2 separate regions of the Homo sapiens genome follow, and region 1 is linked to region 2. Evidence: fine-mapped expression QTL. Tissue or cell type: caudate. Region 2 holds a variant in brackets; the other region holds the start of a gene. All regions are shown on one strand. Distances are from middle to middle.

Region 1 (5,369 bases), 26 kb before region 2:
CTCTAGCTGAGAGGAAAACCGGCTCTCCTAGATGTGTGAGAATGAAGCCTGGAACAAGATGGCTTTCCATTGGCCCAGTGAGCTGTTTGGAGGCGGGACTTACAGTGACAACTTGCTTCTGAGTGGCTTGGACTTAAGGGGAGGGGCCGAAACGTTGGTAAACTTTTAATTCTGAATGGCTGATGGAACTGGAAGTGTGTGAGGGTTGGGCCAATCCAAGAGTTTCTGTTGGTGGAAGGTGTGGCTTCTGGCGAAAGGGGCGGGATTAGCATATGATGGTCTCTCCCTTTGGCCACTAGTGATTTTTTCCTTGAAACCTGTAACTTTTTGAAGTTCTTTCCCATCATGAAGCATATGGCACCTTAACTGCAATCTGCAGTTTGGTGAGACGCACAGTGTGTTAGCACTTTCAGAGATCAGAAATGGGGGGAAGTCCTATTAAAAAATGTTGAGTAACTTGTCAGTTGCATTTTGCCCTGCCTCAGCCTAGAAGTCGGGATTCTCATCCCTTTAACCCTTGGTGTTATTCCTGTTTAGCCCTTTAACCCTCGGTTGGAATTCCTGTATGTGGGATTCCAGGAACATGACCTTCCTTCTTATTGCATTGGCACATCCAATGGGATCAGTTTGCCTGATTATGAAGTTATCACCTCGGAAAGTAAAGAAAGAAAAAATGGAATAAGATGGGTGAACAATGAATTTTGGGGTGGGGGAGAGGGTAGGGGGAGCATGAGAGCTGGGCGGCCCCTGGAGAGAGGACTCCAGCAGACCTTGAAAGGCCTTAACATTATTCCCTGCATCGGCCGGGCACGGTGGCCCACGCCTGTAATCCCAGCACTTTGGGAGGCCGAGGCGGGCGGATCACGAGGTCAGGAGATCGAGACCATCCTGGCTAACACGGTGAAACCCCGTCTCTACTAAAAATACAAAAAATTAGCCGGGGGTGGTGGCGGGCGTCTGTAGTCCCAGTTACTGGGGAGGCTGAGGCAGGAGAATGGCATGAACCCGGGAGGCAGAGCTTGCAGTGAGCCGAGATCGCGCCACTGCACTCCAGCCTAGGCGAGAGTGAGACTCCTCTCAAAAAAAAAAAAAAAAAATTATTCCCTGCATCTCCAAAGCAGTTTACAGTTGCTAAAGGGCTTTGTCCATCACTTTCCTGGCTCCTTACAGGGTAGAACTGAAGGTGTTCTGATCTCACTTTATTTATTATTTTATTTTATTTTGAGTTGGATTCTCGCTCTGCCGCGCAGGCTGGAGTGCAGTGGCACGATCTCGGCGCATTGCAATCTCTGCCTCCCGGGTTCAAGCGATTCTCCTGCCTCAGCCTCCCAAGTAGCTGAGATTACAGGTGCAGGCCACTGTGCCCGGCTGATTTTTGTATTTTTAGTAGAAACGGGGTTTCGCCATGTTGGCCATGCTGGTCTTGAACTCCTGACCTCAGGTGATCCTCCCACCTCGGCCTCCCAGAGTGCTGGGATTACAGGCATGAGCCACCGTGCCCGGCCAGGCCAGGCTAATTGTTGTATTTTTAGTAGAGACGGGGTTTCACCATGTTGGCCAGGCTGGTCTCGAACTCCTGACCTCAAGTGATTCCCCCGCCTCGGCCTCCCAAAGTGCTGGGATCACAGGCTTGAGCCACCGCACCCAGTCTTGAGCTCACTTTATAGGTGGGATGGAGAACCTTGTAGGAGTTAAGAGCCTGGGCCACCGCCTTATTAGAGCAGGGGCAGCGCTGCACCCACCCGGGTCCCAGCTCCACACTTCCCTCTTCCTCCCCAGCCACCAGGATCAGCGTGGGGTGCAGCGCCTCCTGAGTGCAGAGGTCTGTGTGAATGTGCCTGGGTGTGCGCTGTGTACCTGGAGGTCTTTCTGCCTGCTGTCCCGTGGGGTACATTGTGGATTTAGGGGCCTTGTGCACCCGGGGAACCAGGGTGCTCAGGCACCCACGCAGTGGTGAGAAGATGGAGAGATCTTGGCCTCCCTCTGCCCTTTTCAGCCTTTCAACTTCTGTCTCTTGATGTCTCTTCGCCTTCCCGGTGTTCTAGGGTTTCTGATTCCCTCTATCAGTTTCCGGGGACGAAGGCTCGGAGTCCCCTTCCCAGCCGCTCTTATAATGGAGAGAGGAGATTCCATTGAGGGGTGGCTCCTGGAGGAGGGGTACTTCAGGGCAGTGGGGGACCCCCGGACAGAGAACGGAGGTGCTGGGCGTGGGGTGGGGAGATAACTAAGCCAGCAACACCAGCATCACCACCACCAAAACCCGAGACACCACCATCCTCAGTCCCACTCCCCAGCCGGGACACAGGGCGGAGTCTCGCCAGTAGGGCTTGAGGCCACCCAGCTGCCCAGGGCGCACCCCGACCCCCGGCCCCGCCAGCAGGGCACGAGTCCGCTCCGGATCCGTCCCGGGTTTCTTCCGCGTCGCCGGGGTCTCCGCCCCTCGAAGCTGCCGCCGGAGCGTCGCCGGGGGAGCCACGCGTGCCACCCGAACCCCTGAACCGATGGGCGCCCCGGCCCGCGTCGCCAACGGAGCTGCGGCGCTGCCCCAGCGCTGACCGACGTTAGAGTCGGGCTCCGACAGCGCGGCCGAGTCCCCGCGCGTCATCCTCCTTTGACTCTTGGGGGCTCCAAAGGGACCTCTCTCTTGGCACCGGGGGTGTCTGCGCCCGCCGCCCGCCCCGCTTGGCTTTGCGGCATCTCGGCCCTGGCTCCAGCTCCGGCTCCGGCGAGGTAGGGGGGCGGCCGGGCCTGGGGACTGGGGAGGGGGCTAGCGTGCTCCTCCACCGCAGAATGGGGCAGCAGAAGGCCACCGCCCCTCAGGGGGACCAAGCGGCTGCGCCCCCTTCTGCCCAGCCCCTCCCAGTCCGAAGACCCAGAAAACTGAGTCAGAGGCTGCGCTTCAGGTGTCCAGAAGCGCTCCCCCGCCCCCCTCTGTTGCCATGTCGCTCCCACCTGTCCCCAGGGTCCGGCGCCCAGGGGAACCCCCGCCAAGCAGATCGCTCCCTTTGCAATCTCCCTCTCCCCCAAGCCCAAGCCCCCAATCCGGGGTAGAGGCAGAGGGAAGACCCTCACTCGGGAAGACCCTGCAGGACAGCCCCCCCTTCTCCACTACTGTGGCCCTCTGGGGCCCTCCCCCCACCCCCTTTGGCTGGGCCATCTTCCTCGGCCCCTGCCTCTGCCCACCCCCTAGGCCTTCTCTCCCGCCCCCACTTCATCGCCTCTCCCCGTCTCTGTTTCCAAGGTTGTTCTCTTACGGCCTTTTTTCTGACTTTCTTTTCCCCTTGACCCCTTCCCCTCCACGGATCCCCGCCCCCCATACCCCGGGGCGAAGGGGGTGTGTCACGCTGCTTTCTATTTACAGTGTCCCAGGGGAGGGGGTGCGTGCTAGGATTTTTTTTTTTTCATCTGCTGGGCCCAGAGTCACGAGGTGTCATGTCTGTGATTCGGTGTCGAAGCCTCCTCCGGCTTCCCTGCCTGTCCCCTGCGGCCGCATCTCCTGTCCGCTTTTGTCTGCTCTCTGCCTCCATTCCCGTCCTTTTCGCTCTCATCTTTGGGCGCTTTGTGCAGCTGCCTTCTTTGTCTCCGCCTCTCCGGCGACTGGGCTCTCCCTTCCCTCCCTCTCCTCCCTCCCCCAGTGTCAAGAAGCCATCGGCCTCAAGGGCATCGATATTTCAGGTGTGTGGGGTGTGGTGGGAGTGGGGTGCGGGTGGGTGGGCTGCCGGCATTCCCAGCTCTGACTCCGATCATGCCCAGCTATGACTCTGATCACCCCCTCCCCAAAGAGATCATTCATATTTATGAGATTTAAAGAATGTCCCCAAGGATGTGGGGATAGACATGAAGAGAGAAATGTTATTCCTCTTTTTTTTTTTTTTTTTTTTTGACAGCGTTTCACTCTTGTTGCCCAGGCTGGAGTGCAATAGCGTGATCTCGGCTCACCACAATCTCGGCCTCCCGGGTTGAAGCGATTCTCCTGCCTCAGCCTCCTGAGTAGCTGGGATTACAGGAATGCGCCAGCACGCCCGGCTACTTTTGTATTTTTTTTTTTTTTTTTTTTTTTTAGTAGAGAGAGGGTTTCTCCATGTTGGTCAGGCTGGTCTCCAACTCCTGACCTCAGATGATCCGCCTCCCTTGGCTTCCCAAAGTGGTGGGATTATAGGCATGAGCCACCACGCCCGGCCAAGAAATGCTGTCCCTCTTTTAGGAGGGCGCTTGGTCCAGGAGATACCTGGACTACATTTCTGACAGTGCCCTGGACTCACCAGCTGCCTCCGCCTCTGCCTAGACATCTGATGAGAGTTAAGAGTTCCACGGAGCCAGGCTGGAGGGTGCTGGACTGGAGGGTAGGAAGTGGTCACCATGTGAAGCAAGGGTTACAGGCTAGCCCACAGCTTTGGCTTGGCCTGGAGTCGCTGACCTGTTTTATTACTCGCCTCCTCCAAGGTTTAAGGACCTGGGAACCTTTGTTCATGTCCCCCAAAATGGAACAGGGGTAGAGGTGGTGCCTGGGTTGAAAGATGGGGGATGCATTGGAAAGTTCTTCCCTCCCCATGACTCTGGGAACTCCCCACGTCCACCCCTACCCTTACCTCCCACGACAAACAACCTTATCTGAGACGTATAAATGCCATTTGGAAAGGGTCTCCCCACTGTAAGCAAGGGAAGGAGACTGGAGCCAAATGTCTTGAATGAGTCAGGTGGGTTCCAGTCTACCGGTTGCTCACAACTTATCACCTTTGGGGGTAGTGAGGGTATTGCTGGAAGCACCACTGAACCACTAGCTTGCATTTTCCTGGGACCCATGAACAGCTGGTTCATGTTGCCTGGAGCTGCAGATGGAGTCAGGAGCTAACTTGCTGTTCTCTGGGACCCATTGTCCTCAGAGCGTGGTGCAAGAGGTCTGGGGCTTGGGCTGGTTCCAGGCATGGAGGCTTGTGTGTTGGCATAGGGATTGCTGACAGTGTGGGCCAGACAGTGAGGGAGTTCCTAGCAACCGCATCTCTGGTTCTTCATCAGCTTATCCCACCTGGGCCCTTCAACTCCTGTTCAAGGACCCAGTAGTTCCCCTCCTTGCTCTTCAGGCTGGGGTCAGAGATCCAGATACACTAAAAACAGATCTTGGCTGGGCATGGTGGCTCACACCTAATATCCCAGCACTTTGGGAAGTGGAGGTGGGAGGATCACTTGAGCCCAGGAGTTCAAGACCAGCCTGGGCAAAATAGTGGGACCCCCATCTCTACAAAAAATTAAACATTTTAGAAAGTAGCCAGGTGTGGTGGCACATGCCTGTAGTCCTAGCTACTCGGGAGGCTAAGGTGGGAGGATCGCTTGAGCCCAGGAGGTTGAGGCTGCAGTGAGCTACGATGATG
Region 2 (5,369 bases):
ATTCATTACTGTCCTCCAGATGTCCTCAGCTCCCAGGTCTCCCTGACCTACAGGACGACCATTTCTCAGACATTTTAACCCACTGCCCAACTTGAATCTAGGCAGGTCTGAAAGTAGGTGGGGAGTCACCTCTTATAGACAACTTTGAGGTCCCTCCACTCCAGGAAGCTGCACATCTTGGGCTTTCGAGCCAGGACAACCTGCATGAGCTCGCGCACCATCTTCTTCCGTTCCTTGTCCGAAGTGGCCAGGTACCATTTTTGCAGCCGCAGTTTTCCCTGCCGGCTGAATAATAGCATGAACCGCATCTGTGGGGGATGGGAGGGCAGAACCGAGGGTAACCACACATTCCCCAAACTTATCTCCAGCTAATTCTTCTCTACTTTCTTCCAACATCCAGCCCCTTGCTCTCAAGGCTGGGTGTTTCCACCAGCAGGGGGAAGTCAGAGCTTCTGAGTCTGTCAGCTGGGTTCAAATCCTGGCTCTACTAGTTATGCAAGGCCTTGGCCCAATTACTACTGTAAGTCTCTGGGCCTCAGTTTCCTTATGTGTAAAATGGACATTGTACCTGCCTTGCACAGTTGTTAGGTGAGACTAAATGATTTGATATATGCAAGTCCCTAGCACAGGCAGGCAGTATAACATGTTAGCTATTATTATTATTATTTTTGAGACAGAGTCTCTCTCTGTCGCCCAGGCTGGAGTGCAGTGGCGCAATCACTGTTCAGTGCAATCTCCGCCTCCCAAGTTCCAGCGATTCTCCTGCCTCAGCCTCCTGAGTAGCTGGGATTACAGTCACGTGCCATCACGCCCGGCTAATATTTGTATTTTTAGTAGAGATGTGGTTTCACCATGTTGGCCAGGCCCTGGTCTCGAACTCCCGACCTCAGGTGATCCACCCACCTAGGCCTCCCAAAGTGCTGGCATTAAGGCATGAGCCACTGCGCCCGGCCGTTAGTTATTACTATTATTACCATGATTCCCTGACCTCTTGCTTTCTGGTCTGCTTTCTAAAGGTAAGTAAAATGCCTAGCACAGTGACAAGACGACAGTAACCGACGCCAAAGAAATGCCTGTTCTCTTCCACCCTCTCTCTATCCATCACCATGCTGAAATCTGGTATTTTGTCCCTGGAGAAGCTACCTCAATTTTCCACCCCATCATAGCCATAAGATCTTAATGATCTCCCAAACATATCATCCTCCAGTGCCAGGCCTATGCCCAGGGGTATCCTCCTCTGTAGTATGTATCTCCAACACCACACAGGGTATGCAGATGCCCAAATCCTATCTTCCTCTCTGCAGGCACCCAGGCATTTGGTCTTCGACATTTCTCTTTAACTTTTCTTCCTTTTAGGGTGCCTCCTGCTAAGCGCCCACTCCTCCCCAGACACCAGGTGACCAATTTCCCTCAGTTAGGGCCCCGCCACCCAGGGGGTTCCCCTAAAAGAATGTCTGCAGAACAGACAGCAAGCTGGGTCAAGTGGGATGGAAGACAGAACCCTCACTGCCCAGTGTACCCCAGCTTCCCAGTTCCGGGGGGTCTGGGCCACATCCTGGAGTCTTCTCCTTACCCCAGTAGCTCTTCTATTCATGGACATGCCCAGGCTTGGAATCCCTGGGTGTGTGGCACTGTACTAGCTTAGTAAGTGAAAAATCAGAATTCAGGAGAACTGATTTTTTTGGTGGAGGGGAAAAGAGGGGCGCTGGGGAGCCTCGTGCGGCGCTCAAATAGGGGGGTGGGGAGCAAGCAGGAAGACGGAAGGCCTGGATTCCGGAAAGAGAATGGGAAGGGGGGCAGAGAGCCCCGGAGCCCGGGATCCCAAAGCCTGGGTCCCTCGGAGAAAAACCACGAGTCCACTTCGCTTCCCTACCTGGGCCCAGCCTCTAGGCAAGCACGGCCACGAACGCAGTAGGGCGCTCCCTTTTCCGACCCGGAAACTCCCCTCCCACACCCCTCTCCCCACCCGGGTCCCCGCTCCCGCCTGTGCAGCCCGGGAAGGGGGTCTCGGTGACTGGTGACCCCCGCTCCCTCCCTCAGCAAAGAGACTCCCGCAACCCTCTGCTTCGGGCGGCTTCCCTGCAGCGGGGATCGAGGGACCCCAGGGGCCAAGACCAGAGCGCCCCTCCCGGCTCGGGACGGCCCCGCCGCCCCTTCGTCAGCCCCCGCTCGCCCTGCAAATGCGCCCCCTCCCCGCCCCTCTCCCGAATGCCACCTCCCCCTCTTCCTCCCGAGCCCGGCTCGCCCACCCGCCGAGGCAAGGGAGGCCTCTGAGGACCAGAGGGAAGACAGGGCGGTTCACCCCGAGGGCGGCCCCCGAGGACCCCCGCAGGTGCAGCCCACGCCCCTCGCTTCCCCCTCCCCTCCCTCTTCGCACAGCCTACCATCCTGCAGCCTCCGGCTCGGCGCGTCCCACTTCGGCCACCGTAGGCGCCAGTCCCACTCCCTTTCTTATCCTTTCTCCTGCTGCCCTCCCTCTCGCCCGAAGCCCCGCCCCGTCCCGCCCAGGCTCTGACTCCCGGCGCGCCACGCACTGCGCAGGCGCCGACGCCGCGGGGAGCGCGGGCGGGGCTGGAGGCGGAGAAGCGGAAACCATGGCAACCAGGTCCTTGACTGCAGCTTCTAGGAGCCCGGTCGTCATGGTAACGCGGCTGTCCTGTGGGCTGGTTGGAGGATGGGGGAGGAGGACAATAAGGTCCTCGCGCTTTGGAGCCTTGTGGGGCAAAAAGGCGGGAAAAGGGGTGAGAGGTGAATGGGACGATCATTGGAGTTCGAAGCAGCAGGCAGGACTCCTGGAAGGGGAGTGGGCCGTGAAAAGGGAGCAGGGTGGGAATTAAGTGTAGGGGAGGAGGAGTGACCTGGAAAACAGAAAGACAAAGGGTCATGAGAAAAGTATAGAACCCAAGCTGAATATCTATTGAAAGCGTGATAGATACACCCCTCTAGTTTTTTTCTTTTTAGAGACAGGGTCTGGCCGCGTCACCCAGGTTGGAGTGCAGTGGTGGGATCGTGACTCTCTGCAGCCTTGAACTCCTGGCCTCAAGCGATCCTCCCGCCTCAGCCTCCTGAGTAGCTGGGACTACAGACGCACACCGTCATGCCCAGCTAATTTTTAATTTTTTTTTAGTAGAGACGGGGGTCTTACTATGTTGCCCAGGCTGGTCTCGAACTCTTGGGTTCAAGAGACCCTCCCGCCTCGGTTTCCCAAACTGCTGGGATTACAGGCGTGAGCCACCGCGCCTGGCTTCTGATTTTACAGTAAGAGAAATGTGTAGAAAAAGAATAAAAGAGAAAAGGAGAGGCTGCTATAAAAG[G/C]CATGTAAGGAGAAGGGGGAGGAACGTGAACTGAGGCAAAAGGGGAAGAAATAAAGAGCGTCTTAAAAGGTTAACTTGGGTCAAAACTCAAAAAGGGACAGATGTCACCCAAATCTCAGTGTGAAGATGAGGTGGATGTACGTTGTAATATGGGCTTTTAAACTGAATGTGTGTGTGTGTCTACATGTTACTGGAAAAAGGGGTCCCGATCCAGACCCCAAGAGAGAATTCTTGGATCTCATGCAGGAAGGAACCCAAAGCAAGTCGTAGAGTGCGATGAGAAGAGAGAGTTTATTGAAAGCTACACCCTTACGGAGTAGGGCGTCCTCAGAAAGCAAACAGAGGAACACACTGTCTTAAGTTTTTCTTTTCTTTCTTTCTTTTTTTTTTTCTTCTTTTTTTGAGACAGGGTCTTACTCTGTTGCCCAGGCTGGAGTGTAGTAGCATGATCATAGTTCACTGCAGCCTCCACCTCCTGAGCTCAAGCGATCCTCCCACTTCAGTCTCCCAAGTAGCTAGGACTACAGGCATGCACCACCACAGCCAGCTAATAGTTGTATGTTTTGTAGACACAGGGTATTGTCATGCTACCCAAGCTGGTCTGGGACTCCTGGACTCAAGGTATCCACACTCCTCAGCCTCCCAAAGTGTTGGGATTACAGGTATGAGCCACCGCCCCTGACCTTTAAGTTTTTCTTATATAGGGGTCTTGTTTTTGTAGAGACTAAACTAAGCCGAGTCAATGTGCAGATGGGCCAATGGCATGACAAAATTTATTATTCTGTTAATTTAACTATCCTTGACATTCTAGTAGGTAAGTACATCAAAGCAAAACTTAATTATCTTTCTTCCTTTTTTTTTTTTCTTGAGACAGAGTCTTGATCTGTTGCCCAGGCTGTAGTGCAGTGGCGTGATCTCAGCTCACTGCAACCTCCACCTCCTGGGTTCAAGCCATTCTTGTGTCTCAGCATCCCTAATAGCTGGATTACAGCTACATCCTTTCACCTCAGCCTCCCAAGTAGCTGTGACTGCAGGCATGAACCAGTGCATCCAATTAATTAAAAAAATATTTTGTTGTAGAGATGGGGTCTCACTACTGGGATTGTAGGCATGTGCTACGACACCCAGCTAATTTTTGTATCTTTAGTAGAGAGGGGGTTTTGCAATGTTGGCCAGGCTGATCTCGAACTCCTGGCCTAAAGCAATCCTGCCTTAGCCTCCACACCCAGCCAGAACTATAATTATCTTAAAGGCACATATTGTTATGGGTATTGGGGCATCTGGATTTTCTGTAGTTGGAGGAGTCTGTCCTTGCAGGTATCTTTAAGCTGTTTCCCCAACTGTAAACAGCTTTGGGTTGTGACTGACAAGGAATGTGCCTTGTTAGTTTCAAGATGGAGCTGAACTTAAAATGGCTTTATGCTGGCTCTCTGAGGCTCCTGCTTCCCTAGCACAAATGATAAAGTAAAGAGGTCTGGATAGAAGGATAAGAGAAAATCTTAAATTTTGTCATGCAGAAAAGTTAATGGTAGATAATTGTTGGCAACTAATGTGCTATTATTTTTGAGTAGCACATGATGCAATTGTTGGTAAGGCCTCACCTCCTGTCTCCACTTTATTTATTTATTTTGTGTATTTATTTTTTTGAGATGGAGTCTTGCTCTGTTGCCCAGGCTGGAGTGCAGTGGCACAATCTCGGCTCACTGCAACCTCCACCTCCCGGGTTCAAGTGATTCTCCTGATTCAGCCTCCTGACTCAGCCTTCTGTCTCAAAAAAAAAAAAAAAAAAAGAGGACAGTAGTACATATCTTGCAAGGTGGTTCTGAGGATTAGAGGTAATGTATAGCAAGTATCTGTAAACACTTCATAATGGTACCTATCATTTCCTCTTCCCAGACTCTTCCTTTTTTTTTTTTTTTTTTGTTGTTGTTGTTGTTGTTGAGACGGAGTCTCGTTCTTGTTGCCCACGCTGGAGTGCAGTGGCACGATCTCGGCTCACTGCAGCCTCCACCTCCCCGGATCAAGCAATTCTCCTTCCTCAGCCTCCCAAGTAGC

Alleles and levels. Positions count from the first base shown, and alleles are read on the strand shown. Sizes are in standard deviations (SD) of each study's normalised expression.
In carriers of allele C in region 2, the expression in caudate of the gene that starts at base 2,479 in region 1 tends to be lower than with G alone (moderate effect, 0.44 SD a copy in GTEx).

Evidence for each region. PIP is the estimated chance that this variant, and not a neighbour inherited with it, causes the effect. A credible set is the group of variants that fine-mapping cannot tell apart.
Region 1: it holds the start of NAT16, and the variant in region 2 is the best candidate, but not a certain one, in a credible set for the expression of NAT16 in caudate (GTEx, PIP 0.53).

Annotation. Positions count from the first base shown.
Region 1 is chr7:101,177,403-101,182,771 of GRCh38, reverse strand. It overlaps NAT16 (N-acetyltransferase 16 (putative)), which reads left to right and starts at 2,479. Exons shown (of 4, transcript NM_198571.3): 1 at 2,479-2,730. RefSeq lists silencers at 25-242, 2,310-2,604 and an enhancer at 1,976-2,698.
Region 2 is chr7:101,151,533-101,156,901 of GRCh38, reverse strand. AP1S1 (adaptor related protein complex 1 subunit sigma 1) reads right to left here and starts at 2,426. Exons shown (of 5, transcript NM_001283.5): 1 at 2,385-2,426; 2 at 130-308. The coding sequence starts at 2,387. RefSeq lists enhancers at 1-541, 1,520-2,020, 2,340-2,634 and a silencer at 2,445-2,684. The variant G/C (reference allele first, on the strand shown) is at 3,315.